Regions from separate parts of the Homo sapiens genome. Here all the other regions are linked to region 3. Evidence: fine-mapped expression QTL. A gene starts in region 3. Each other region holds a variant in brackets. All regions are shown on one strand. Distances are from middle to middle. Region 1 has its middle 9.4 kb from the start of SLC38A7. Region 2 overlaps GOT2 (glutamic-oxaloacetic transaminase 2). Region 3 holds the start of GOT2 (glutamic-oxaloacetic transaminase 2).

What was found. PIP is the estimated chance that this variant, and not a neighbour inherited with it, causes the effect.
Region 1: its variant is fine-mapped to the expression of GOT2 in whole blood (TOPMed, PIP 0.98).
Region 2: its variant is fine-mapped to the expression of GOT2 in tibial artery (GTEx, PIP above 0.99). The same link has a PIP of 0.9 or more in lung.

What each region holds. Positions count from the first base shown.
Region 1 is chr16:58,689,125-58,699,152 of GRCh38, forward strand. No RefSeq gene overlaps it. Among named protein-coding and RNA genes, the nearest start is that of SLC38A7, 9.4 kb to the left of the region's middle. RefSeq lists a silencer at 9,212-9,378. The variant CT/C (reference allele first, on the strand shown) is at 4,106.
Region 2 is chr16:58,702,812-58,712,839 of GRCh38, forward strand. GOT2 (glutamic-oxaloacetic transaminase 2) reads right to left here. Exons shown (of 10, transcript NM_002080.4): 9 at 6,606-6,756; 10 at 4,320-5,482. The coding sequence ends at 5,360. Among named protein-coding and RNA genes, the nearest start is that of SLC38A7, 23 kb to the left of the region's middle. The variant T/C (reference allele first, on the strand shown) is at 5,234.
Region 3 is chr16:58,730,640-58,740,497 of GRCh38, forward strand. GOT2 (glutamic-oxaloacetic transaminase 2) reads right to left here and starts at 3,677. Exons shown (of 10, transcript NM_002080.4): 1 at 3,501-3,677. The coding sequence starts at 3,589. RefSeq lists silencers at 3,002-3,091, 3,192-3,281 and enhancers at 3,404-4,022, 3,722-3,801.

The DNA.
Region 1 (10,028 bases), 41 kb before region 3:
GACTCTGTCTCAGAAAAAAAAAGTATTTTGTTATTATTATTATTATCATTTTAGAGACAGGGCCTTGCTCTGTTGCCCAGGCTGCTGCTCAGCACAAAATCCTGGGCTCAAGTGATCCTCCCACCTCAGTCTCCCAAGTAGCCAGGACTGCAGATGTGTGCCACCATGTCCAGCTAATTTTTAAATTTTTTGCAAAGACAGGGTCTTGCTGTGTTGTCCAGGCTAGTCTTGAATTCCTGGGCTCAGGCAATCCTTCCACCTCAGCCTCCCAAAGTGCTAGGAATACAGGTGTGAGACACTGTGCTACTCCTACAACTGTTTTGTATATTGATCTTACACCCTACAATTCTGTTGAACTTATTTACTAGCTCTAATAGTTTTATTAGTGGAATCTTCAACATAAGATTATAAAACCTGTAAATAGAGATAATTTTATATCTTCCTTTCTAATCTGGATTCCTTTTATTTTCTAGCCTTGACTGTACCAGAACCTCCAGTACAATGTTGAATGAAGTGATGAGAGTGGACATCCTTGTTTTGTTCCTTGTTTCAGGAGACAATCATTCAGCGGTTCATTATTAAGTATGATGTTGCCTGTGGATTATTTGTAGATGCCTTTTATCAGGGTAGGAATTTCCTGTGTATTCCTAGTGTGTTGAGTGTTTTTTATCATGAATGGGTGTTGGATTTTGTCAAATGGTGGGGTTTTTTTTCTGCTTCTATTGAGATGATTATGTGATGTTTCTACTTTATTTTATCGATGTGGTATGTACATTGATTTTCCTATGTTGAATCAATTTTGCATTCCTGGGATTAATATTTCTTGGTGATGGTGTAGTCTATGTGAAGCTGTCAAATCCTCAGTTTTTCTTGGTGGGAAGTCTTTGGATTCTTCATTCAATCTCTTAATTGTAAGTCTATTCAAATTTTCTATTTCTCTTTGAGTCAGTTTTGGTAGTGTTTTTCTTTGAGATGGGGTCTCACTCTGTCACCCAGGCTGGAGTGCAGTGGCACGATCTTGGCTAACTGCAACCTTTGCCTCCTGAGCTCAAGTGATCCTCCCACCTCCCAAGTAGCTGGGACCACAGGCATGTGCCACCACACCTGGCTAATTTTCTGTATTTCTGGTAAAGATGGAATTTTGCCATGTTGGCCAGGCTGGTGTCGAACTCCTGACCTCAAGTGATCTGCCCGCCTTGGCCTCCCAAAGTGCTGGGATTACAGGTGTGAGCCACCACGCCTAGCCAGTTTGGGTTAGTGTTTTTCTAGGAATTTGTCCATTTAATGTAGGTTATCTGGCTTGTTGGCATATATTTTTCATAGTATTCTCTTATAATCCTTTTTATTTCTATAAGGGCAGTATTAATGGCTTTTATTTCATTCCTGATTTTAGCAATATGAGTCTTCTCTTTCTTGGTCAGTGTAGTTAAAGCTTTGTCAGTTGTATTGATTCTTAAAAAGAAACAATTTTTTTATTTTGTTGATTTTCTCTATTTTTCTATTGTGTTTCCTGTATTTTAGCTCTAGTTTTTATTATTTTCTTTTCTTCTGCTTGCTTTGGGTTTAATTTGATCTTTTATTTACAGTTTCTTAAGATGGAACATTAGGTTATTGAATTAAGATCTTTCTTCTTTCTTTTTTTTTTTTTGACGGAGTCTCGCTTTGTCGCACAGGCTGGAGTGCAGTAGTGCGATCTCGGCTCGCTGCAACCTCTGCCTCCTGGGTTGAAGTGATTCTCCTGCCTCAGCCTCCCATGTAGCTGGGATTACAGGCACGTGCCACCACGCCTGGTAATTTTTTGTATTTTTAGTAGAGATGGGGTTTTACCACGCTGGCCAGACTGGTCTCGAATTCCTGACCTCAGGTGATCCACCTGCCTTGGCCTCCCAAACTGCTTGGATTACAGGCATGAGCCAACGCACCTGGCCAACATCTTTCTTCTTTTTTTAACACAGGCATTTATAGCTACGCACTGCTTTAACTACTTCCCAGAAGATTTGATATGTGTTTTCATTTTCATTAAAATATTTTCTATTTTCCCTTGTGATTTCTTCTTTAACTGATGCTATTCAGTAGTATATTGTTCAACATCCATGTATTTATAAATTTCCCAAATTTCCTTTTGTGATTGATTCCTAGTTTCATTCCACTGTGGTCGGAGAACATACTTTGTGTGATTTCAGTCCTTTTATGTTTATGGAGGCTTGTTTTATGGCCTAATGTATGGGCTACTCTGGAGAATGTTCCATGTGCATTTGAGAAGACTGCATATTCTGCTCTTGTTGGGTCAAGTGTTCTATAGATTGTCTATTAGGTGTAGCTGGTTGATTTATGGTATCGTTGAAGCCTTCTCTTTTCTTGTTGACCTTCTGCCTAGTTGTTATATCCATTCTTGAAAGTATGAGGCTGGGAGCAGTGGCTCATGCCCATAATCCAATCACTTTTGGAGGCTGAGGCAGGAGGATTGTTGAACTCAGTAGTTTGAGACCAGCCTGGGCAACATAGTGACATCTCATTTCTACTAAAAATTAAAAAAATTAGCCAGGTGTGGTGGCACATGCCTGTGGTCCCAACTACTCAGGAAGATGAGATGGGAGCATTGCTTGAGCCCAGGAAGTTTGAGACTGGAATGAGTTGTGCTCACGCCACTGCACTCCAGCCTGGGTGACAGAGCAAGACCCCATCTCAAAAAAAAAAAAAAAAAAAAAAGATTGTCTTTTGTCAACAGCATGTAGTTGGATCTTTTAAATAAAAAAATCCCTTCTGCTAGTATCTGTCTTTTAATTGTAGTGTTTAATTCATTTACATTTAATGTAATTACTAGTAAGGTAGGCTTTACATCTGCCATCGTGCTGTTTGTTTTCTATATGTCTTTTGGTTGTTGTTGTTGTTATTCCTCTGTTCCTCCATTATTGTCTTATTTTGTGTTAAGTACATATTTTCTAGTCTATCATTTTATTCCCTTGTGATATTTTACTTTTATCATTTGAATATGTCCCCCAAAATTCATGTGTCAGAAACTTAATACCTAATGCAACAGTGTTGGGAGGTGAGGCCACATAAGAGGTGATTAGGTCATGAGCGCTCTGCCCTGATGAATGGACTAATATCATTATTGTGGGAGTGGGTTAGTTATCATGAGATTGGGCTTATTACTGAAGCAAGTTCTGGACTGCGGACGGTGGCTCACACCTGTGATTTTTAGCACTTTGGGAGGCTGAGGTAGGCCTCACTTGAGGCCAGGAGTTCAAGACCAGCCCAGTGAACATAGCTGTCTCTACAGAAAAGAAAAAGTAGCCAGGCATGCTGTCTCATGCCTGTAGTCCCAACTATTCAGGAAGCTGAGGCAGGAGGATTGCTTGAGTTCAGGAGTTTGAGGCTGCAGTGAACTATGATCCTGCCACTGTACTCCAGCCTGAATGACAGAGCGAGATCCTGTCTTAAAATAAAAATAAAAATAAAAATAAAAATAAGTGTTCCACCTTCTGCCATGGGATGACTCAGCATGAAGGCCCTCACCAGATGGCAGCACCATGCTCTTGGACTTCCCAGTCTCTAGAACCATGAGCCAAATAAACTTCTATTGCTTATAAATTCTCCAGTCTGTGGTATTCTGTTACAGCAACTCAAAATGGACTAAGACATTTACTATATACAGTTTTGAGTGATTTTCTTAGTGGTTGCCCTGTGGATTATAATTAATGTTAGTACAACAATCTAGTTAGAATTAATACCAATTTAATTCACTTGGTTCCAAATCTTTGCTTCTATATCCTTTTGTTCTCTTCCCCTATATGTTACTTCAGTATGACAAGAGTTTATATACATTATAAACCCATCAACATAGTTTTACTGTTAAATTAAAAAAATTCTTTTTCTGACAGAGGGTCTCACTCTGTCATGCAGGCTGGAGTGCAGTGGCACAATGCTGACTCACTGCAACCTCTGTCTCCCGGGTTCAAGCTATTCTCCCACCTCAGCCTCCTGAGTAGCTGGGACTACAGGCATGCATTACCACTAAAAATACCTAATTTTTGTATTTTTAGTAGAGACAGGGTTTCACCATGTTGGCCAGGCTGCTCTCAAACTCCTGACCTCAAATTAT[CT/C]GCCCACCTTGGCCTCCCAAAGTGCTGGGATTACAGGCATGAGCCACTGAGCTTGGCTCCATCAACATAGTTTTATAATTCTTACTTTATGCAGTTGCCTTTTAAATGAGAGAGCATGGCCAGGTGTGATGGCTCATGCCTGTCATCCCAGCACTTTGAGAGGTGGATATGAGTGGATCACTTAAGCCCAGGAGTTTGAGATCAGCCAGGGCAACAAGGTGAAACCCCATCTCTACCAAAAAAAAAAAAAAAAATTAGCTGGGTATGGGGGTGTGCACCTGTAGTCCCAGCTACTGGAGAGGCTGAGGCGGGAGAACTGCTGAGCCTCGGAGGCAGAGGTTGTAGTGAGCTGAGGTTGCACCACTGTACTCCAGCCTGGGGGACAGAGCAAGACTGTGTTTTAAAAAATAAAAAATAAGTAGGGAACACAAGAAAAGTGTTATACACAAAAAAATGCATTTGTACTACTTTTAATATTTACTATGTAGTTACTTTTACTGGTGCTCTTTATTTCTTCATTCAAATTACTGTCTAGTGTCCTGTTATTTCAGCCTTAAGGATTTCCTTGAATATTTCTTATAGGACAGATCTGCTAGCAACAATTTTCTCTGTTTTCATCTGGGAATGTCTTAATTTCTCTGTTTTTGAAGGATAGTTTTGCTGGATGCAGAATTCTTAATTTATGGTCTTTTTCTTTGAGCACTTTGCATGTGTCTCCTCACTGCCTCCGGCCTCCATGGTTTCTGATGAGAAACCAGTTGTTAAGCTCACTGAGGAGCCCGGTATGTGTTCCTTCTCTTGCTGCTTTCAAATTTCTCTCTTTGACTTTGGATAGTTTATGATGTTTCTAGGTATGGATCTCTTTAAGATTATCTTAGGCCGGGCGCGGTGGCTCACGCCTATAATCCCAGCACTTTGGGAGGCCAAGGTGGGCGGATCACGAGGTCAGGAGATCGAGACCATCCTGGCTAACATGGTGAAACCCCGTCTCTACTAAAAATACAAAAAATTAGCTGGGCGTGGTGGCGGGCGCCTGTAGTCCCAGCTACTCGGGAGGCTGAGGCAGGAGAATGGCGTGAACCTGGGAGGCGGAGCTTGCAGTGAGCCGAGATTGCGCCACTGCACTCCAGCCTGGGCAACAAAGTGAGACTCCGTCTCAAGGAAAAAAAAAAAGATAAAAAAAGATTATCTTAGAGTTTCTTGGATGTGTAGATAATGTTTTTCTCAACTTTGGAAAGTTTTCCATCATTATTTCTTCAAATATTCTTTCTGCTCCCTTCTCGCTCTCTTGAGACAGCCATTATGTATATGTTGGTATGCCTGATGGTGTCTCACAGGTCTCTGAAATTCTGTTCATTTTTCTTCATTCTTTTTTTTTGAGACAGTCTGGTTCAGTCACCGAGGCCGGAGTGCAGTGTTGTGATCTTGGCTTACTGCAACCTCCCTCTCCTGGGTTCAAGTGATTCTCATGTCTCAGCCTCCTGAGTAGCTGGGATTACAGGCACATGCCACCATGCTCGACTAATTTCCATATTTTTAGTAGAGACGGGGTTTCACCTTGTTGGCCAGGCTGGTGTGGAACTCCTGGCTTCAAGTGATCTGCCCTCCTCAGCCTCCCAAAGTGCTGGGATTACAGGTACAGCCAGCCCTCATTTTTCTTCATTTTTTTTCTTTCTCTTCCATAGGCCGGATAATCTCAATTGATGTATCCTCATGTTCAGTGATTCTTCTGTCAGCACAAATTTACTATTGAGCCCTTGTATTAAATTTTTAATTTCAGTTATTACTGTACTTTTTAACTCCAGAATTTCTATTTGGGTCTTTTTAATAATATCTATTCATTGATAGTCTCTATATGACAGGACGCTGTTCTCATACTTTTCTGTAGTTGTTCAGACATAATTTCCTTTCACTCTTTGCCTATGTGATTCCAAGTCTTTGTCTAGTAAGTCTAATGCCTGGGCTTGGGCTTCCTCAGGGACAGTTTCTATTGACTGCTTTTTTCCCTATGTATGGACCATACTTTCCCATTTCTTTACATTTTTCATAATGTTTTTGAAGACTAGACATTGAAAAATAATATAATATGGAAATCCAAAAATTGGAGTTTGTTGCTGCTACCTTTTCTGTAGTGACCTTCCTGGACTAATTCTTTAAAGTCTGTATTCTTTGCTGTGTGTGGCCACTGAAGTCTCCTCTGAGTTAGTTTAGTGAATTTGATAGATTTCCTTAAATGCCTTGAACCAGTAAGTATCCCAGCCCGTTTGATTTTAATTCTCTGGTTGGCAGTTTATCCCTCTGTCCTGGACTTCACTTTCTGCTTGCACAGAGCCTCAAGGCCAGCCAGAAGTGAGAGATTAGGATGTTCTTAGATCTTACCTGGACATGTGCACAGCCTGTGCCTGTTCATGGTTTTCTAGTTTTCCAGGAGAATGACAAACTTTTACTTACTTACTTCTTTTTTTTTTTTTTTGAGACAGAGTCTCACTCTGTTGCCCAGCCTGGAGTGCAGTGGCACAATCTTGGCTCACTGCAATATCCCCCTCCCGGTTCAAGCAATTCTCCCACCTCAGCCTCCCGAGTAGCTGGGACTACAGGTGTGCGCCATCATGCCCAGCTAATTTTTTTGCATTTTTTCATAGAGACTGGCTTTCACCATGTTGGCCAGGCTGGTCTTGAACTCCTGACCTCAAGTATCTGCCTGCCTTGGCTTCTCAAAGCACTGGGATTACAGTTGTGAGCCACTGCGCCTGGTCCTTACTTATTGAGACAGGATCTCACTCTGTCATCCAGGCTTGAGTGCAGTGGCATTATCATGGCTCACTGCAGCTTTGACCTCATGGGCTCAAGTGATCCTCCTGCCTTTGTCTCCCAAAATGTCGGGATTTTAGGTGTGAGCCACTCAAAACTTTTTAAAGGCCTCTATAGACAATTCATTCCCCAGCTTTTTTCTTTTGAAGTTATTTTTTTTTCTTTCTTAGTTTTTTTGAAACCAACTCTTGCTCTGTCACCCGGGCTGGAGTGCAGTGGAAAGATCTCGGCTCACTGCAACCTCCGCCTCCCAGTTCAAGTGAGTCTCATGCCTCAGCCTCCTGAGTAGCTAGGAATACAGGTGTGCACCTGCATACCCAGCTAATTTTTGTATTTTTAGTAGAGATGGGGTTTCACTGTGTTGCCCAGGCTGGTCTCAAACTCTTGAGCTCAAGAGATCCGCCTGCCTCAGCCTTCCAAAGGGCTGGGATTACAGGCATGAGCTACCGCACTGGTCCCTGACACCAGTTTTGAGTCTTTTGGTTTTTAAGGCTACCATGGAGCTGGGAGGAGGGGGATGGGAATAGGGCGTTAAATGCTACAAGTCTTGCCGTTCTTACTGAGGTTGTCATTTTTCTTGAATAAACTCTCCTGGGATTGTTGGAAGCCTTTGCTTCATTCCCAGAATGTTGATTTTGGCAATTTTTGACAGTATTCTCATTGCTTTTATGGAAGAGAAGATTCTCTCTTCCACATTGTGCCATTTCAAAAATGCTCTCATAAGAATCATTCTATTTTTTTTTTAGATGGATTTTTGCTCTTGTTGCCCAGGCTGGAGTGCAGTGGTGCGATCTTGGTTCACTGCAACCTCCACCTCCCAGGTTCAAGTGATTCTCCTGCCTCAGCCTCCCGAGTAGCTGGGATTACAGGCGCCCGCCACCACACCCGGCTAATTTTTGGGATTTTTAATATAGACAGGGTTTCACCATGTTGGCCAGGGTGGTCTCGAACTGCTGACCTCAGGTGATCCACCTGCCTCGGCCTCCCAAAGTGCTGGGATTACAGGTGTGAGCCACTACGCCTGGCCAAGAATTGTTCTTTATTTTCCACTTCCTCCAGTTTAGAGTAAGAGTTTGGATGGGGATCAATGTTCATATTGATGCAACCGAATTGAGATGGAGCAGATGACATTGTTCCTTAAACCGCTTTGCCTACAGGATCCAGTAATTCCTTAAGAAGACATAATGCACTTGGTGGTGTGGCCTCTGCCTGCCCTGCTAGACAGATCTCTTGCTACTCCAATTTTTAAGCTCTAACTTGCTTCCAGGCCTTCCATTATGCTTTTGCATCTGCTGTGGAATATCCTAAACTGGACCAACTTAGAATAGGTCTTCAGACATTTGTTGAAATTGAGAAAGAGAAGCTTTTTTTCTTTCTCTCTTTCTCTTTTTTTTTTTTTTTTTTGAGAGGGAGTGGAGTTATTAAAAACTCCTGGAGCTGCTAGTGAGTATCTTCTCACTGTTGAGAGGATGGCCTTCTCAAGAATGAAGCCAGTACCCGCCAGGCGCTGTGGCTCACGCCTGTAATCCCACCACTTTGGGAGGCCGAGGCAGGTGGATCACTCGAGGTCAGGAGTTCGATACCAGCCTGGCCAACATGGCGAAACCCCGTCTCTACTAAAAATACAAAAAATTAGCCGGGTGTGGTGGCAGGCACTTGTAATCCCAGCTACTTGGGAGGCTGAGGCAGGAGAATCGCTTGAACCTGGGAGGCAGAAGTTGCAGTGAGCCAAGATTGCACTACTGCAATCACTCCAGCCTGGGTATCTGAGCGAGACTCTATCTCAAAAAATAAAAATAAAAAAAAAAAAGAAGAAGAATGAAGCCAGTGCCAGAAGACGAAGAATGAAGCCAGTGCCAGCACCAGCAGCAAAAAAAGTGAAGCTGACAAATGGAGGCAGATTCTTGGCAACATAGAGCACTTGGCTCTGGCTGTTGGACCTACCAGCTAGAGAGCTAGAGCTACCGTTATATCAGCCTTGGGCTGTTCTCCAGTACATGTACATGAGGTAATTCCCTTTTTATTCTTGTGCCAGTCAAGCTGGCTTTTGGCACTTGCAACCAAAGGAGCCCTAATTGGTAAAGTCTATAGTGTCAAAGCCAAGATGGGGAAAAACAATAAAGGGTGCCTTCGAGTTCTAAGCACAAATGACCTGCCACAGTACTTGCTCAAAAATATTTATTGAAGGTTGCTATGGGCATCAAATAATCAAATAAGATCATGTACTTTTTTTTTTTTTTTTTTTGAGACGGAGTCTCACTGTTGGCCATGCTGGAGTGCAATGGTGCCATCTCGGCTCACTGCAACCTCCGCCTCCTGGGTTCAAGCGATTCTCCCTGCCTCAGCGTCCCAAGTAGCTGGGATTACAGGTGCCCGCCACCACACCTGGCTAATTTTTGTGTTTTTAGTAATGATGGGGTTTCACCATGTTGGCCAGGCTGGTCTCGAACTCCTGACCTCAAGTGATCTGCCTGCCTCGGCCTCCCAAGGCCTCCCAAAGTGCTGTGATTACAGGCATGAGGCACCGCGCCTGGCCGATCATGTCCATTTTTAAGTGCCATGTAAATAAAGGTAAGGGATTGTTAAATATAAGCCTGACAGAAATTCTCAGCTGCAATTCCTTCACATTGCTCCAGGAATTGGTCTGAAAAGATCTTTGGATATTGAGTAACTTCCTTTTTTAGATTTGGACATTTAGAGAATGGCCTTCATTTTTTTTCTTTAGTGTACATATACTTTTTACAAAAATCTTTTTTGAGATGGAGTCTCTCTGTCCCCCAGGCTGAAGTGCCATGGTGCGATCTCGGCTCACGGTAACCTCCAGCTTCCAGGTTCAAGCGATCCTCCCACCTCAGCCTCCTGAGTAGCTGAGACTATAGGCCGTGTGCCACCACACCCAACTAATTTTTGTATTTTTAGTAGAGTTGTGGTTTCACCATGTTGCCCAGGCAAGTGATCCTCCTGCCTTGGCCTCCCAAAGTGCTGGGATTATAGGTGTGAGCCACCACGCCTGGCCTATATTTTTTAATTAAAAAAAATTCTTTTTTAGAGACAAGGTCTCATTATGTTACCCAGACTGGACTTAAACTCCTGGACCCAAGTGATCCTCCT
Region 2 (10,028 bases), 28 kb before region 3:
GCAAAGTGAGAGTTCTAGTTACACATCTTCACCAGTCTTGGTGGTGTTTGTCTTAATTTTAGCCATTTAGGTGGGTGCGTCTAATAGAGGTTTTGTGTTTCCCTGATGAATGATACTGAACACTTTTTCATATGCTTTGAATATGCATAAATTCAAATTTGTATATCCTCTTTTGTGACTTGCCTGTTCAAGTCTCTTGCTCATTTTAAAAACTGGATTGTCTTATTGATTTGGAATAGTTCTGGATATATCTGGATTCTAGTTTTATTTTTTTAAGACAGGGCCTCACTCTGTCGCCCAGGATGGAGTGCAGTGGCACAATCATGGCTCACTGCAGCCTCGACTTCCTTGGGCTCAAGCGATCCTCCTACCTCAGCCTTCTGAGGAGCTGGGACTACAGGTATGCACCATCACTTCCGACTAATTTTGTATTTTCAGTAGAGATGGGGATTTGCCATGTTGCCCAGGCTGGTCTCAAACTCCTGGGCTCAAGAGATCCACCTGCCTAAGCCTCCTAAAGTGCTAGAATTACAGGTGTGAGCCACCACTCCTGGCTTGGATTTTGGTGTTATTTATATGTGCTGTCAATATATTCTCCATCTGAAGACTGCTTTTTCACTTTATTGGTTTCCTTTGTGGAACAAAAATCCTTGATTTTGATGAAGTCTAATTATGGTCAGTGCTTTTTATGTCTTGTTTAAGAAACATTTGCCTAAAGTTTTGAAGATTTTTTTTTTTTTTTTTTGAGATGGAGTCTCACTCTGTCGCCTACGCTGGAGTGCAGGGGCACAATCTTGGCTCACTGCAACCTCCGCCTCCCGGATTCAAGTCAAGCAATTCTCCTGCCTCAGCCTCCTGAGTAGCTGGGATTGCAGACGTGTGCCACCACACCCGGCTAATTTTTGTATTTTTAGTAGAGATGGGGTTTCACCATGTTGGTCAGGCTGGTCTTGAACTCCTGACCTCGTGATCCACCTGCCTCGGCCACCCAAAGTGCTGGGATTACAGGAGTGAGCCACCGCGCCCAGCTCCCCCTTTTTTTTAAGACGGAGTTTCACTCTTGTTGACCAGGCTGGAGTTCAATGATGGCGATCTCAGCTCACTGCAACCTTCATCTCCTGGGTTCAAGTGATCCTCCTGCCTCAGACTCCTGAGTAGTTGGGATTACAGGCACATGCCACCATGGCCCGGCTAATTTTTATTTTTTTTTCGTAGAGACGGGGTTTTACCACATTGGCCAGGCTGGTCTCGAACTCCTGACCCTCAGGTGATCCGCCCACCTCGGCTTCCCAAAGTGTTGCGGTTACAGGCATGAGCCTTTTTTACAGGCATCCAGCCCTGTTTTCTTTTTTTTAGAGACAGAGTCTCACTATGTTGCCCAGTCTGGTCTTGAACACCTGGGCTTAAGCAACCCTCCTGCCTCAGCCTCCCAAAGAGCTAGGATTACAGGCATGAGCCATGGTGCCTGCGCCTACTTTTTTTCCTAGAAGCTTTATTGTTTCACTTTCCACATTTAAGTCTGTGATGCATCTTGAATAAACTTTTGTATATGTTGTTAAGTAGGGGGTCAAAGTTCATTCTTTCCATTTAGATCATAGTTCACTGCAGCCTCAAACTCCGGGGCTCAAGTGATCCTCCCACCTCAGCCTCTTGGGTAGTTGGGTACAGGCCCAAGTCACTGCGCCCAGCCAAAATTATATTAGTAGTACAATCTCTACCACGTAAATATTTGCACAGAAAAACCAAGGGAAGATAATTCAATACAAACAACTGTTATCTCCACATGGTAGGCATTTGAGGAATTTAAAATTTTCTAAAATGAGCATACCCTACTGTTATCAATAAAAACTACTGTTTTCAACATTTTTATAAGATATCTTGAAAAAGAAACAATTGGTCTTTCAGTTATCATTAGGTATAAATAAACCAATAGGCCGGGTGCGGTGGCTCACACCTGTAATCTCAGCACTTTGGGAGGCCAAGGTGGGTGGATCGTTTGAGTGCAGGAGTTTGAGACCAGCCTGGGCAACATAGCAAGACCTGGTCTCATAAAAAAAAAACAAAAACAAAAACAAAACAAAACAAAAAAACCCCCAGTAATTTCTATGAAAAAAAAAATTCAGAAAAAAGGCTTAGAATAAACTCTCAAGTTGGCTGAGTAAGTTGGACTTTGGTTGTTTAGATGTATACCTGAAACAGTTCAGGCTGATAGTTCCCCATGGCTGATCTATGGGTGAGCTATATTTGAATCAACTGCAGTTTTTCTTTTAATTTAAAAAAATAGATTGTCAAGCTTTCTCTTAGACATGCTGAATCAGAATGCCTAAGAGGTGAGGCCAGAGAACCAGTACTTTAAATAAATGATCTAGATTTGGGAACTATTCTACCTTGAATTATAATGAAACCAAGGTATGACTATTCTCTCTGAGCTGGCAAACTACTATCAGATTGGAGAATGTTAACATTTTAGACCAGACTAGGGAGCTAGGAAAAGGCTGTGGGCCAATGTTCTGACCTTCTCAGAAAACCATCAAGCTGCAGACACCACATGATGAATGGGACTTAGTCCAGTGTAAGGTGGTAGTACCCATGTTTAAAAATAACAAGGTCAGGCTGGGTGCAGTGGCTCATGCCTGTAATCCCAGCACTTCAGGAGGCTGAGGTGGGCGGATTACGAGGTCAGGAGATCAAGACCATCCTGGCCAACATGGTGGAACCCCGTCTTTACTAAAGATACAAAAAATTAGCTGGGCGTGGTGGCACACGCCTGTAGTCCCAGCTACTTGGGAGGGTGAAGCAGGATAATTGCTTCAACCCGGGAGGTGGAGGTTGCAGTGAGCCGAGATCGCACCACTGCACGCCAGCCTGGGCGACAGAGTGAGACCAGGGGGTGGGGGTTAAGTTCCTTTCACAATTAGTTGAGGTCTTGGCAACCAACTTTCAACCATTTTTGCTCCAGACAGGGAGAACTTCAGTTTCTCCTAACTTAGGCAGTCAGTACCTTTGCAGAGCAGCGGACTAATATGTCTATTGTTTCCCCTTTTCAGATAAAGACATCCAGTGAACCAGTCCTTTCACATATCCTTTCACCACCTTGGAATGTCCACTAGTAACAGGAACACAGAGAAGCAAAGAGTCAGAGCGACCCCTGACCTGCCATGCAGTGTGTCCCTCAGGAGAAGGCAAGGGGGAAAGAACAAGTTGAGCCTGCTTGCCCATCCCAGCAACCATGGGGACACTGTGGAGGGTCCCTGGGCCTGGCTCCTGCTCCATTGCTTATCTGGCTGGTCACTCTCCCACAATGAAAGGCTCCTTGCACTGAATGAAAGGGACAAAATACCGTAAGCAGGACTGATGCCACACAGGTGCCAGTGCTGGATGTCTGCTGACAGGGGCATGTGACCTACATCAGAGGACACAGACTTGCAGTCTACCATCTGCACCCTGCTTCCAAATCATTTTTTTTCCTTTTTTTTTTTTTTTTTTGAGACGGAGTTTCGCTCTTGTTGCCCAGGCTGGAGTGCAATGGCGCGATCTCGGCTCACTGCAACCTCCGCCTCCTGGGTTCAAGCGATTCTCCTGCCTCAGCCTCCTGAGTAACTGGGATTACAGGCATGCGCCACCATGCCCAGCTAATTTTATATTTTTAGTAGAGACAGGGTTTCTCCATGTTGGTCAGGCTGGTCTCAAACTCCTGACCTCAGGTGATCTGCCCACCTCAGCCTCCCAGAGTGCTGGGATTACAGGCGTGAGCCACCATGCCTGGCCCAAATAATTTTTTAAAAATTGAACCAGTTGCCAACTTTTAAGCACCAACAGATCAACCATAGAAATCAAGATTTCCATTTTTCTTGAAAAATGTAAGACCTACCACCTTGGGCGTTCATCCTCACAGCTCCTGTCACTTCACTACTGCTCCTCAATGCTGAGGATGAGGGTTGATCACCACTGATCAACTTAAATCCAGTTCACAACACTTTTTTATTTACGTTACCTTCTTGGCTCCTATAGACCACTGAAGTTGTCACTTCTCCTCCACCCCTTCTACCCTTTGCCTATATCCACAGGATCCTTCATGGGACTCCACTTGTTCCCCACAAGGTCCAAGGGATTACACCCACATTCTCAGCATCTTCGGACTGGACAAACTGAATGGCAACATGAAGAAAACGACGAATCTTCAGCCAATATTTGGAATAGTGGATACATCTACTGGCTTATGATCAGCTACACGATTCCAAACTCCTACCCCTTTATTTATTTACCCACTCCTACCCCTTCCTCCCATTAAAGAAAAAAGATAACTTAGTAGACAGTAGTTGGGTCTACAGTAATTTTATTGTAACAGAGAAACCAGGCCGCAATAAGTCTACATGGTTAGAGCAGATGGTGGTTCTTTCCAGTGGGTGAAGCCTGAACCCAGCTAGCAGCACGCAAAGCCTAGAATATCCTCTTTCCTGGTACCACCCTGCGCCGCTGGACTCACAGTGTGAGATGAGAGGCTGCACACCACATTCAACAAAGGGAGGAGGTCCAACCGGGCAGAGACAACATCCCAACTGGAGAAACTTGCACTATCATTCAAGAGGATGCCGAGATAAAGTACAGTTTCCTACTCTCCACTATTCTTTGCTGAAAAGGGTGAGGGTACAGCATCAGCAGAAAATTATGTTCTTCATTCTTAAATAAATCTCGATAGGATGGAGTTGATGGTCAATCAAGCAGTAGAATGGGATGAAAATCTGCAATAGTTAAAAAATCTTTGCGTGTAAGGAAAAGAACGGCAATGACAAGGGAGAAAAGAGAGCCTTCTCTTTTTCTTAAATAAGACAGGAAACTGCATTATTTCCCTTGCTGGAGTGGCAGCAGCCTCATTGGTTTTCATAAAACATCATTTCTGCAGTGCGGCCTGTTGATAAGGTTGTTCCAAGATGGGAGGACAGACACGAGGCCGACTACTCATGACAGAACTAGGCCTTCTCTCAAAGCCTCTAACGTGTGCTGTTTCTCACGAGGAACCTGACACTTCAGTTAAAGCTTCTGAAATATTGCAATGGCATAATTGACAGGTTTTTTGGTGCGATGACTTTCTTGCACATGTAAACTCTTTGAGAAAAGTTGGAGAAAAAAGGACCGGGGAGAGTTTGGTTTAATATTCCAGACGCCAGCCATGGATGCCTCTGCCCTGTGTCACTACATGTTCTTTTCTGAGAAACATTCAAATGCTGAGTGT[T/C]ACACACTGTGGCTGAAAGAAATGATCCACTCACCACCATCCACCCTCTCTCATTGTCTGTGTGAAGCTCTCAATAGCAGAGGCTGAAGACAGAAAGGTTGTCTCTGTTTCCTCGCACCAGGGACATTACTTGGTGACCTGGTGAATGGCATGGGCAAGGTAGCCCACGTTGCTGGAGGTGACCCCTGCCACAGAGATGCGGCCATCTTTTGTCATGTAGATGGAGAACTCCTTGATCAGCCGCTCCACCTGCAGAGAGGAAAGAACTTGGGTACCTCTTCCCGGTACAGGGGATTCTCCCCGGCCTGACATGGCACAGTAGCCAACTTACCAACGCTCTATTTCCTCGCTTAAAACCTGTTCCCAGAATTTGCTGTTAGCTTGGAATAAAATAAGAATAAAAAGCTACTTTAAGGCTGGGGCGGTGGCTCACACTTGTAATCCCAGCTATTCAGGAGGCTAAGGCAGGAGAATAGCTGGAACCTGGAACCTGGAACCTGGGAGGCAGAGGCTGCAGTGAGCCGAGATTGCGCCAATGCACTCCAGCCTGGGCGACACAGTGAGACTCCATCTCAAAAAAAGAAAAAAAAAAAAGCTACTTTAAAGTAGGATGATGAATTCTGATGCATAAACAGATGGGGAAAAAGACACCTTTAGATTCAGCAGAGCCAGGATTCAATTATGAAACAGCTATTTCTCCTGTTGCTCTCTTGGGAGAAGCAACAGTGATTATGAACATGATCAAAACAAGCTCTGCTCTTTAGAAGTTTGTGAGTTCATGGGGGATACAGAGAGGTAAACAACTAAAAAAAAAAAGCAAAATAAATGCTAAAAAGTATTACAATACTTTTACCTAAAAGGGCTCCAAAATAACTGTTTTAACTGTTTTTAGGGTAATTTTGAACAGGTGGGTGATCTATGAAGAATCCTTCTGGGGCTGGGCTCAGTGGCTCACACCTGTAATCCCAGTAGTTTGGGAGACCAAGGCAGGCGGATCGCTTGAGTCCAGGAGTTCAAGACAAGCCCGGGCAACATGGCGAAACTATGTCTCCACAAAAAATACAAAAATTAGCCAGGTGTGGTGGCACTCACTTCTAGTCCCAGCTGCTCGGGAGGCTGAGGCAGGAGGATCACTTAAGCCCTGGGAGGTGGAGGTTGCAGTGAGCTGAGATTGCACCACTGCACTCCAGCCTGGGTTTCAGAGCGAGACTGTCTCAAAACAAAAACAAAAACAAAAACAAAACAAAACAAAACAAAACAAAACAAAAAACCCGAAAACATTAAATAAAAAAGAAAAAAGAAAAAAAAGTAATCCTTCGGGTTTGCAAAGACTGATCAGCTGGTCTGCTGCAGAGAAATCAGAATCACTCACCTGTTCAGGCTTTAGCCCTGTGAAACAGAACATGCCAATTTGGTCGGTGATGTGTTGCCAATTGTGGGTGGAACCCTCCTTCTTGAGGTTGGAGACCAGTTGAGTCCGCATGCCAATGATGCGGTCAGCCATGACTTTCACTTCTTGCAGCCTGTAAAGAAACCCTGAGATGCAGCTCATTCTGCCTAAGCACTGACCGATATGCTGGAGTTCACTGCATTTTTACCTCCCTTGAGCAGTCCCCTAGTGTGCCTCAATTCTCAGGTCACGAATGAGTGACACGCTGTCACTGGCCAGGGAAGAAAGCTATTTTATAGCATTCTGTTTTATATTGGAACACTATTTCCATAAGGCAACTGAAGCAGTTAACACACTTGAGTAGAGACAGTCCTTGACTTACAACTTTTCAACTTCATGATGGCACAAATGCAATATACATTCAATAGAAACCGTACTTTAAGTACCCATACAGCCATTTTGTTTCTTTCAGTACAGTATTGAATAAATTACATGAGACATTCAGCACTCTGTTATAAAATGGCTTTGTGTTAGATGATTTTGCTTAACTGTAGTTTAATACCTGTTCTGAGCATGTTTAAAGTATGCTAGGGTAAGCTATGATGTTTGGTAGGTTAAGTGTATTAAATGAATTTTCTTTTAATGTAGAGATGGGGTTTTGCCATGTTGCGCGGTTTGGTTACAAACTCCAAGGTTCAAGCAATCCTCCTGCCTAGGCCTCCCAGAGTGCCGGGATTACAGGTGTGAGCCACCACGCCTGGCCCATTTTCTTTTTCTTTTTCTTTTTTTCAGATACAGTCCATCACCCAGTCTCAGTCTATCACCCAGGCTGGATAGTACAATGGTATGATCATGGCTCACTGCAGCCTCAATCTTCCAGGCTCAAGTGATCCTCCTGCCTCAGCCTCCCAAGTAGCTGGGACCACAAGTGCATTCCACCATGCCTTGCTAATTTTCTTTTCTTTTTTTTTTTTTTTTGTAGAGACAGGGTCTCCCCATTTTGCCCAGGCTGGTCTGGAACTCCTGGGCTCAAGTGATTCTCCCACCTTGGCCTCCCAAAATGCTAGGATTACAGACATAAGCCTGGCCTTAAATGCATTTCTGACTTATGACAGGCTTATTGGGATGTAACCCCATCATAATTGCATCTGTATTAAGAAAAGTGGGCGGGGCACGGTGGCTCACGCCTGTAATCCCAGCACTTTGGGAGGCCCAGGCGGGCGGATCACGAGGTCAGGAGATCGAGACCATCCTGGCTAACACGGTGAAACCCCGTCTCTACTAAAAATACAAAAAAATTAGCCGGGCGGATCACGAGGTCAGGAGATCGAGACCATCCTGGCTAACACGGTGAAACCCCGTCTCTAATAAAAATACAAAAAAATTAGCCGGGCGTGGCAGCGGGTGCCTGTAGTCTCAGCTGCTGGGGAGGCTGAGGCAGAAGAATGGTGTGAACCCAGAAGGCAGAGCTTGCAGTGAGCGGAGATGGCGCCACTGCACTCCAGCCTGGGTGAGAGAGCAAGACTCTGTCTCAAAAAAAAAAAAAAAAAAAAAGAAAAGTGAATGAATCACTCTAAAACCTACTAAGATTAAGGTAAAAGCTGTGGGTTAAACAAAAAAAAAAAATGACCTTATTTTTGACATGGATGAAATATACATTCCCATCTTCACAATTGAGACAATGTACTATGAATCTACAATGAGCCAAGCTATTTTAGGTGGTGAGGACTGAGACATAGTCCTTGCCTTCAAAAGCTTGCAAGGGGTGCTTGTAACCAAACCTGTAAACCAAGTATGGAATACGGCCACAAAATGTAAAACACATAGGACACTGCTATGCTAAAAGCCCCAAGGAGAGTAAATTCTGTCTGAGGGACTGGAGAAGGTAGTCCTCTGACTGTGCACGGGGATCACCTGATTCTGAATACAACCTTCCCCTTCCTCAGAATCTACCCTTTCCACTCCATTCCCATGGCTCTGGGACATTCTTGGCTCTCACCAATGACATTCCCATTTACAGTTTATCTCCCTGTTCTTAGGTGTTCACTTTCCTAAACCATCTCTGTATAATGATGTTATGCACGGTTAGAAGAGAGATCACAAACTGCCAATTAAAGACCAAATATGGGACCTAGTAATGTTTTACTTCACCCAGTGAAACGTTTTTAAATTGGGCACTTGTGCCTAAAAGCTGAAACCTGTAGTTTCTCTTGAAAAATGAGAAACGATAGCACTGTATTAGCAAAATAATTACTGGCTGGAGCTGAGGAGCCCCTGGCCCCTCCAGTTATGGCATCTGATTTTAAATTTCCTACAGTTTCCATCGTCCAGCTTCATTCACTTTGAGGCCTGGATCCCAAAGATATTGAGTGCATGAACAGGGCTAGATGTGGAGCCATCTTAGCCAAACCCCTCCATCCTCCTTGTTGCCTGGAGAATCAAGTGTTGACTTCTTACAGTATCAACCAGGGTGCTTCACGATCTGCTCCACCTTCTCAGCTTGGCTGTCTCCCACAGTCCTCCTCACATTCGTGTTTTCATCACGAAAACAACTTGGGGCTTTCTACACAAGTTCTGCATAATGCACGTCCCACGCCTATGCCCTCACTCAGATCTCTCCCCAGTTTCCTTGTCCGTTTCATTTCCTTTGCAAAAAAAAAAGCCCTTTCCCCTCTTTAATGCACAGCTCACATGCCGCAGTCCTCATTACATCTTCTCTAACTCCCCACTAGAATCAACAGCTCTCCCTTTAGTCATCATTTATTCCATTCTGTCTTATATTAAATATCATGTGTGGCCAGGCGCGGTGGCTCACGTCTATAATCCTAGCACTTTGGGAGGCTGAGGTGGATGGATCCATTGAGGTCAGGAGTTTGAGACCAGCCTGGCCAATGTGGTGAAACCCAGTCTCTACTAAAAATACAGAAATTAGCCAGTCATGGTGGTGGGTGCCTGTGATCCCAGCTCAGGGGAGCCTGAGGCAGGAGAATCGCTTGAACCCAGGAGGCGGAGGTTGCAGTGAGCTGAGATTGTGCCACTGCACTCCGGCCTGGGCCACAGAGCAAGATTCTCTCAAAACAACAACAAGAACAACAACAACAACAACAACAACAAGAACAAGAAAGTCATGTGTGTATCTTTCTCATCAGATTATAACCACCCTGAGGGTAGTCATTAACACAGTCTGGCATCTTTGTCTACTACAGACTCTCAAATTGTGTATTGAAATGCATGCATTAAAAAAAATCTTCATAACCAGAGAATATGAAAATATTTTTAAAAACATTGAAAATATTAAGTAAAAAAGCTTAGTATAATTCTAAGTGACAAAACCAAAACCAGTCCTGCACATACATATATAACAGTATGTCACAACTACAGATAACAATGGGTGGCTGGGCGCAG
Region 3 (9,858 bases):
CAGGTGTGAGCCACGGCACCTGGCCTAGAGGGAATACTCAATTTGATTAGCCCCACATTAGTAACCATCTTTCAACTCCTCCATGCCTTTCATTATTCCATTTCTTAAAATGGTAAAGACTACACACATATTGTAAGAACTCTGATGTTTTTAAAGGAATCGAGTAGATGAAAATAGGAGTGTTCTAGGGGCAAAACTCATGCTGATAACCTGTGACCTAGAAAGTGATTTCTATCAGTACATTTTGGATACAGGCACAAAGCCTCAAACATTGAGCAATATTGACTGGTCATCCAAGAGAGGTTAGGTACCAAGTATTCAGGTAAGCCTTTCCAATCGAAACGCATTGTAATTTCCCTGGAGCTTAAGCCTACTTAAAGTTTTACAGTTTTTAAACTGCTTTTCCTCACATTCTTCTTACTTTAAAATCAGAAGGGAAGTTAATTAGCTTGCCCACAATCACAGAGCTAAAAATGGCAGAGACAATAGCACAGCTGTGATCTTTTTTTTTTGAGACACAGTCTTGCTTTGTTGCTCAGGCTGGAGTGCAGCGGCGTGATCAGCGGGCTCACTGCAACTCTTCACCTCTCAAGCGATCAGGCTCGAGCGACCCTCCCACCTCAGCCTCCCAAGTAGCTGGGACTCCAGGTGCACATCACCATGCCCGGCTAATTTTTGTATTTTATGTAGAGACGGGGTCTTGCCATGTTGCCCAGCTGGTCTAGAACTCCCGAGCTCAAGCAATCCACCTGCCTCAGCCTCCCAAAGTGCTAGAATTACAGGTGTGAGCTACTGTGCCTGGTCTGTGATCTTTTAACCAATGGTTATGGTACCACAGTTGCACACTGCATTTTTAAAGTCTCACGAGACCTGCTCAGTTATTTCACCAAAAAGTAAATAATCAGAATTAAATAATTAAAAGCAAATCATTATAAATCAAAATACATTAGCATCTTTTTTTTTCTTCATTGAACTGCAACTATGTCTGATCTCATGTCACTATACATTTACAGTACAAGTCAACAAGAGAAAGTTTTATTCGCAGTGTTTAGCTAAATGATACACTTGAACTTACAAAGAGTTCCACATATTTACAAAGAGTTCCAAGTATGCCATTGGATAAATCCTCAGTTCTTCAGAATAACAACAGACAAGGTTTTATTGTATTAGAATGAGCCATTTAAATAGAAATGTCGATGAATTCAGTTTAAGTATTTTCCACTTTTACCATTTGGAGCTAGGTAAAGATCACTTCCACAGTGTAAGGAGGGAAGTCTGATCTTGCCTGAAGAGTTAACCTTCATGCCAAATATGGCATCTGATTCTGTCACCTAATCAGGTATCATTATTTAAATCTGAAGAGTAATTCCTCAACATTAGGTGCTCAACTATTTCAAGAATTTATTTTCTGGTCAGGTGGGGTTGCTTAGCCTATAATCCCAGCGCTTTGCGGGGCTGATGTGGGAGGAGTCTGAGACCAACACAGGGAGACTCTGTCTCTACAAAAAATAAAAAATTAGCTGGGTGTGGTGGTGTATGCCTGCAGTCCCAGCTACTTGGGAGGCTGAAGCAGGAGGACCACTTGAGCCTGGAAGGTCAGGCTGCAGTGAGCCATGATTGTGCCACTGCACTCCAGCCTGGGCAACACAGTGAGACCCTGTATTTAAAGAAAAAAAAAAAGGGAATTTTTTTTGGTACATATTTTGCAGCACTGTGGTTCCCCTGTGTAAGATTAGTCGAGAGAAGGAACAATAAAATCTGTAACTGGTTATGATCAATTAGTTGTAAACACCATTACACTTGGACCAGCCTATGTTCAGATTTTGATCTAAGATACAACATTAAAATGTCATACTGTATTTGTTTCCGTTGCATTACGTGAAAAATCAGGGCTTAAAATAAAAATATCCAATATAAGAGACATGCCAGCAACTGTTAATAGTGCTGAGATGTAACAGTGAATATAAAGTAGGTAAAGTCTCCGCTCTCATGGAACTTACATTCTAGTAAGAAAAATACAGAAAAGAAAAATGAGTCAGACTCTCAAACTGAAAGAATGACTAACCCTGACCCCAAGGGATTTTCACCAAGCACTAGAGCTTCAGGTGATCTAGCCAAATCCATAAAACAAGGTATTATTTTAAGATTACTGCAATAGGGAAACATACTTTCTCTTGACGGAAATTTTAAGCACTCCTTTGGTTTTCCAAATTTGTTGCATAAATAACTCCTCCTGGCTCTGGCCCACTAGGTAGGCAGACTTAAAGAGCACACGTTGACAGTGGGCCAGGAAGGAGCCAAGTCAGGAAGAGAAAAAAGTGCGAAGCCTGGGCAAAACTGTACTGCCAAGGCTGTGGGGCCTTGGAAAGGACAGATAGTTCTGCTGGCTGAAAGACACAGAGCATACATTCAAACGAAAGGCCAAGCTACGCTTTGCTCCTTGCAGTTAATACCTGCTTGGGGGTGGTTTTAAAACTCAGTTCCTTATTAAGGTAGTGCTTAAGGAGAGTGCTCCAAATCGGCTTCTTGAGTTGAATTAATCTTCTGGCTCCGGTCTCCACTGGGAATGAATTACTAGAGCTCGTTTCAAGCTCTGAAATTTCCCTCCATACTATTATACACGCCACAGTACGAAATTACGTTTGTCATTTTTTGAGCAATGACCATTTGTCATTGTCCTTCCCTCGCCTTGTTCACAGTTGTATCGTTGGCATCTGGTCCAGAGCCTGGCTCTGAGAAACTGCAGTTACGAAATATTTACTGAATGAAAGAGCACAGGGAGATGGAGAGGAAGATTGATAGCCTCCCTGCAACCGGACCTCCTTAGGGGCAATAAGGAAAAAACAAAACAAAACAAAAAAAGAGACACACTACACCTCGACCCTTTCCCAAGCAAAGGCCAAACGGGCCCCGGGGTCACAGGGACCTCGGGGGGTCGCAAGGTCAGGAGAATGCCGCACGCCAAGGTCGCAGGTGCGGGAAGGAAAGCGAGGCCCGAATGCCGGCGCCCCGGAAACCTTCCTCTCGCGCTCTTCCCGCCCAGGGCACACACGCGGCAGCCAGCCGCCGCCGGCCCACCGACTCGGGCGGGCCGGGGGCCAGGACAGGTGCGCCCGCCGCCCCCAGGGCACCCTATCAAGGGCACGGTCGTTACCCGGCGCCGCTGCCCCAGTACTATCCGCACCCCTCCCACTGAATGGGAGTCCGGCAACCGCCGAGGGCCACACTTCCTTTCCCTAGGGATTGCGTTGCACGCCTTCCTGCAGGGCCCAGTGCGGGGACCAGAGGGATGTGGGATCCTGAGGATCACTGTGGGGCACGGACGCTCAATCCTCAGTCCCCAGTAAGGGAAAGCCGAGGGGGTGGCAGAAAAGTGTGTGTGTGTGCGTGTGAGTGACAGTGTGTATTTGGGGGCCGGGAGGGGTGAATGTCCTGGGGTGCTCGCAGCTCGGCGGGGCAGGGCCATCGCCCTGGCTCCATCTCCGTTTCCCTTGGCTTACCTGGCTCTGGCAGAGGCCGCGGCGGCGAGGCCCGGGTGGAAGGCGGCGGCGATCCCGGGGAGGACGCGGCCGGAGTGCAGCAGGGCCATGGTGGACCGTAGGAGGGCAGTGGGCAGCCGCAGGACGGAGCAGAGGGCGAGCGGACACACACACAGGGAACCGGCTCCTGCTGAAGGTAAGGACAGGGACTTCCCTGGGCCAGAGCGGCCGCGTGCTGGGCCCGAGCCACGTCACAGCGATCCCTGGCGGCCGGCGGGCGGAGCGGCGTGGGCTCAGCGGAGGTCGTGGAAGAGGATGACTGCACAGTTTACCTACGCCCAGCCCTTGCTGCGCTTCATTCATTTAATCCAGCTGGGCCAGGCCTGGCCGGCCGAAGAGGTGGCTGCTGTTATGGCAGTTTGAAAGATGAGAAAATGTAGGCTGACATAGTTGACGTATTTTGTCTGATGCCTTACAGCCATTAGGACCCAAGGTGGCCTTACTTTCAACCCTAATAGTTTCCCTAAGCACAAGTCATGTCACGTCGTTCCTGAATGTTTCCTTATCCCCCACCCTTTTTTTTTTTTTTTTTTTTTTGAGATGGAGTTTCACTCTGTCACCCAGGCTGGAGTGCAGTGGCGTGATTTCGGCTCACTACAACCTCTGCCTCCCAGGTTCAAGCGATTCTCCTGCCTCAGCTCCCCGAGTAGCTGGGTTACAGGTGCCACCACCACGCCCGGCTAATTTTTGTATTTTTAGTAGAGACGGGGGTTTCACCATGTTGACCAGTCTGGTCTCAAACTCCTGATCTCAAGTGATCTGCCCGTCTCAGTCTCCCAAGACTGCTAGGATTACAGGCATGAGCCACCGCACCTGGCTTCCTTATCCCTTTTATGGAGAGGGTCGCATGTGTATTTTGTGGGGCAGTTGTGAGGATTAATAAGATTAGCAGATTATGTCTAAAACAGGGCCTGATTTAGTAAGCACAAAATAACCCATGGTCATTAATGACAAACTCGTGTATGTCAAATCCTGATAACTGTTTGTGGAAGGAAATGAATCGGTTTTGAAGGAAATGAATCGGTTTTAAAGGAAAAAGCAAATGAATTTCAGACACATCCACAAGTCAAACGAGTCTTTCTCATGTGTAGTCTATTTCTCTGATACTCGTCTCTTAAACCAAGGTAGGGGCCCGGTGTGTTGGCTTATGCCTGTAAACCCAACACTTTGGTAGACTGAGGCAGGAGGATAGCATGAAAACAAGAGTCTGAGACCAGCCTGGGTAACAAGATGAAACCCCCATCTCTTAAAAAAATAAAAAAAAATTAGCAGGATGTGGTGTTGCGTGCCTGTTCCAGCTACTCAGAAGGCTGAGGAGGGAGGATTGCTTGAGCCCATTAATTCAAGAGTGCAGGCCGGGCGCGGTGGCTCACGCCTGTAATCCCAGCACTTTGGGAGGCCGAGGCAGGCGGATCACGAGGTCAGGAGATCGAGTCCATCCTGGCTAACCCTCTCTCTACTAAAAAAATACAAAAAAAAAGTAGCCGGGCATAGTGGCGGGCGCCTGTAGTCCCAGCTACTCGGGAGGCTGAGGCAGGAGAATGGCATGAACCCGGGAGGCGGAGCTTGCAGTGAGCCAAGATCGCGCCACTGCACTCCAGCCTGGGCAACAGAGCCAGACTCCGACTCAAAAAAAAAAAAAAAAAAAGAGTGCAGTGAGCCAGGATTGCGCTACTGCACTCCAGCCTGGGTAACAGAGTGAGACGCTGGCTCTAAATAAATAAATAAATACATACATAAATAAAATAAAACCGAGATAGAACTGTGTACCTTGGCAATTTAATATCTCCTCTGTGGCTCCACGTTGCCTGAATGGTAAAGTCTAAACCCCTACTTAGGGCCACATTCTAGGTCCTTCCGGCCCAGCTCCAATTTACTGTCTCAGACCCTTATGCTCTCATATGACCTTGACCTATGCGCCTATAGGCCATGACTTGGGATTCTACCTGTGAAAAGTAAAGTAGAGATTCTTCTTTAAAGACTTTCCTCCCTGTCTAATTAGAAATAAATAGTAACTTCTCTTAAAAACAAAATGTATTCAAAGACCTGTACTAACAGTCTTAAATATCTGCTAGCCATAATAAAGAAATCAATGTACTTTATGTTCCTAGCTGCCACCATTTAGCCTAAATATTTGCCCTGGCATGCTTATACTGGTCCAAGCAAGCATTAGGTCATAGCCTGTTCCTCTTCCTTATTTGAAGGTGTTTTTACCTTTCTCAGCATTCCACAAGTTACTTCCTCCTTCCTTTGCTCTCCTCTGCCTTTGCCTCTTTTAAAAAGTTCTAAGTTGCTAGCCAATCAGAACAAATACAAAATGTGAGGACCTGTTCCAGCCAATGAAAACCGGACACAGCAGCAAGGTGGATGTATCAGGTTATAAGTGACCTTGTCTCCTTTGTTTGGTGTACTCTCATGGCAAAACTGCTGTCGAGTGTACCCTTTCTGCCGAAAGTATAAAGATGGCCTTGCTGAGGAAATTAAATTTATGTTCAAGTGCTATTTCTTTACAGCACCAAGAAACAAGAATTTCAAACATACCAGTACATCAGTTTGCTCAGACTGCTGTAACAAATCCCCATGAATTGGGTGGTTTAAAACAACAGAAATTTATTCACTCACAATTCTGGAGGCCCAAAATCAAAAATCAAGGTATTGGCAGGGTTTGTGCCTTATGGGGTCTCAGAGACTCTGTTCCATGCTTCTCCTAGCTTCTGGCAATTGTCTGCACTCCTGGGCATTCGTATGCTGTTAGAGGCATCACTAATCTCTGCCTCTGGTGTCACACAGTGTTCTCTCCCTGTCTGTCTCTTCTCTTCTTTTAAGGACACCAATCATATTGGGGTAGGGTGCATCTTAATTGCCTCATCTTCGCCTGATTACATCTGTAAAGACCCTATTTTCAAATAGATCACATTAATGGGTTCCCCAGGTTAGAACTTAAACGTATCTTTTTTGGGGGCACATTTCAACACATAACAACTACTATTCCCAAAACAATTACATGTCCAGGTATAAACCCTAGAGATCTTCTCACACATTTTTAAGGCTGTCAGTAAAGCATTGTTTATAAAAGCAAAACAGGGAACAACCTAGTCGCCCATCGATGGAGGAAGAGATGGATGTTCTGCTACAGTCTCATGATGGAGCATTACAGAACTACTAACGTGAATGAACTCAATAGATGTCACCATGGATAGACCTCAAAAACATAAACATGCTATAGAATTATACATATAATATGGTGCCACTTAGACAATATTTTTAAAATACACAAAACCATAACATACATTTATTCATAAATGTATGTAAAAGTTTGAAAAAATATGCCAAGGATATGGTTCAATACAGGATTAGGAGGGCATGAGCGTATTTGCCCTTGTGGAGGGAAGGAGACAACTTTGTCATATTAGCTTCATAAAAATTATAGATAAGAGGCAGGCACGGTGGCTCGCGCCTGTAATCCCAGCACTTTGGAGGCCAAAGCGGGCGGATCACCTGAGGTCAAGAATTAGAGACCAGCCTGGCCAACATGGTGAAACCCCGTCTCTACTAAAAATACAAAAATTAGCCAGATGTGGTGGCGCGTGCCTATAGTCCCAGCTACCCAGGAGGCTGAGGTAGGAGAATCGCTTAAACCTGGGAGGCAGAGGTTGCAGTGAGCCTAGATTGTGCCACTGCACTCCAGCCTGGGCACAGAGCAAGACTCTGACTCCAAAAAAAAAAAAAAAAAAGAAAAAAAGAAAAAATACAGATCAGATTAACAATTGTCACCATTTTGGGGTTGAGTATTTGTCACATTGGATTCTGTACTTTTCTGTATGTGTGTATATGTGTGTGTGTGCATATAGTTTTTTGTGTGTGTATATATATACACATATACATATATATACACACATATACATACATATACACATATACATATATATATATACACACATATACATATGTATATATGCTAATTTGAGTTCCTGATATGAAAGGTGGATTGGAAGGAACAACCCTACAGTGGGGAGACTAGGTAGAAGGAAGGTTTACACAGGAATCCAGGCAAGAAATTCTGATTGCCTGAGTTCAGGTAGAGGTAACAGTGATGTAGAAAAGGTTACAGATCTGGGGCATATCAAGGAGGTAGAATCAGATGGATTTGGTGATTAGATGCAGAGAAAGGTAGAAAAGGAGTCAGAAATAATTCCCAATGCTTTAGTTAAAATTGGGGTTGTCTGCAGTTAACAGAGACCCCGAATAATTGACTTAACATATATATCTTTCTCACATAAAAATCTGGAGATAGGCAGTCCAGGGTTGGGGTGGCATTTCTGACCCAGAGTCCTTAGGAAGTCAAGTCCTTCCAGATCCTCGCCCCGCCCTCCCTAAAGTATGGTTGACTCCCAGTGGTCCAAGATAGTAGCCATAGCTTCATCCATCACATCTCCATTCAAAGCAGCTGGAGTGCAAAGGACGTACACCAGTTAACTTTTAAAAGAGTTAAAATATGGGCCAGGTGCAATGGCTCATGCCTGTAATCCCAGCACTTTGGGAGGCTGAAGCAGGAAAATTGCTTGAGTCCAGGACCGGTCTAGACCAGTCTAGGCAACATAGTGAGACCCTGTCTCTACAAAAAAAAATGCAAGAATTAGCCAGGTGTGGTGGTGTGCGCCTGTAGTTGCAGCTACTTGGGAGGCTGAGGTGGGAGGATTGCTTGAGCCTGGGAGGCAGAGGTTGCAGTGAGCCGAGATTGTGCAACTGCACTCTAGCTTGGGCAACAGAGTGAGACGCTGTCAGGGGGCGAGGGGTGGGGGGGAAGTTAAAATAGGAGGAGGCAGAGTGTGGCAAAGATCAGATGGAGGAGAGAGTGAGCCAGGGGAGCACAGAGGAGGAAAGGCTCAATGTCAGCTGTGGAAATCAGGGAGGCCTTCATGGGGGAGGTGACATTTGATCTGAACTTTAAAGGACTGAGGTAATGTGGTATGTGGAGGAGGAAGGAAGGAAAAGACATGGCCTATGCCCCTCCTGATTATCTTCCTTGTCCTGGCTGTCTACCTCCCCAGTCTCCCTCCACCCCCCTTTTCTGTGGACCTGCCCCTTCTGGCCATTGCCCTGGGCTTTTTCACCCACGCACCTCATATTTCCAACCCTACTATTAATTACTTGGATTCATGAATACTGCATTTCAGGTTTTGGTCCTGAGCCACGGGTCCTTTAAGCTGTCCACCTGCTCTGACAGTCTCAGGAGCAAATGACAGCACTCCTTCCCCCTCAGGGTCAACCACCATGTCTCCATTTCTCTGTATTTTACAATATGGAGTAAATGCTCATTTGAAAAAATCATCAGGTTTTTGATTTTTGAGTAAGACTCCATCTCAAAAAAAATCATAAACTTTGTTAAAACATTATGAGTTTTTTTGTGATTTTTTTTTCCTCTAGCTCTTCAGCTGTCATCATTGTTAGTGTATTTTATGTGTGACCCAAAACAGTTCTTCTAGTGTGGCCCAGGAAGCCAAAAGATTGAATACTCCTGTCTTACACTGTCACCTCGGGACATCTATAAAGCTTAGATGTTGCAAAACAATGAACTTTGTCCTCAAGAAACACAGCTAATTTACTAAAAATGCACATGTAGACCTATGATTTTAATTTAAAACCATCTTCTAGATATTTACCGAAGAGCCCTTCCCTCCACCCTTTCTCTTCTCCTTCCACCATTCCAGGGACTAAGTACAGGACTATGTCTAGCTCCAAGAGGTCTAGGGACAAAGGTCTCTCCCAGAAGACAGGTGTTTGTAAAAACGAACAAGAGTACATTTATAAAGGGATTATTTTACTTCCTCTACTTTAACATACTTTGAGCATTATAACTTATTTTATTATTTAATGCACGCAATAATAACTAAAATGTGCATATAGAACAATGGTTAGGCCATCTGAAGTAGTCTAACTCATGGGCATAGAACCCTTCTCTCTGCAAACTTCCTCCTCCCCATCACCCACCACCACCCAATGAGCAGTCAGCATACCCTCCAAGACATCAACTTTAACAATTCTGTCCCCAAAATGCAACCACTCCTATAATGTTTAAAAAAAAAAAAAGAAGGGTATTACTTTAGCCCTTTTAACATATTTTTGTGCATTTTTAAACATCTAGGAAGATGAGCTGTTTCAAACAGGACTTAAGTTTTTCACTATACACGCAGTACCATTGAGTAAACGGTGCACATACATAACAAAGGCTATAATTTCAATATGTTTTCTAACTAGGAACATTCTGGCCTAGAATCCTTCCCCTTCCTACCTCTATCAACCCAGGGGACAAGTATAA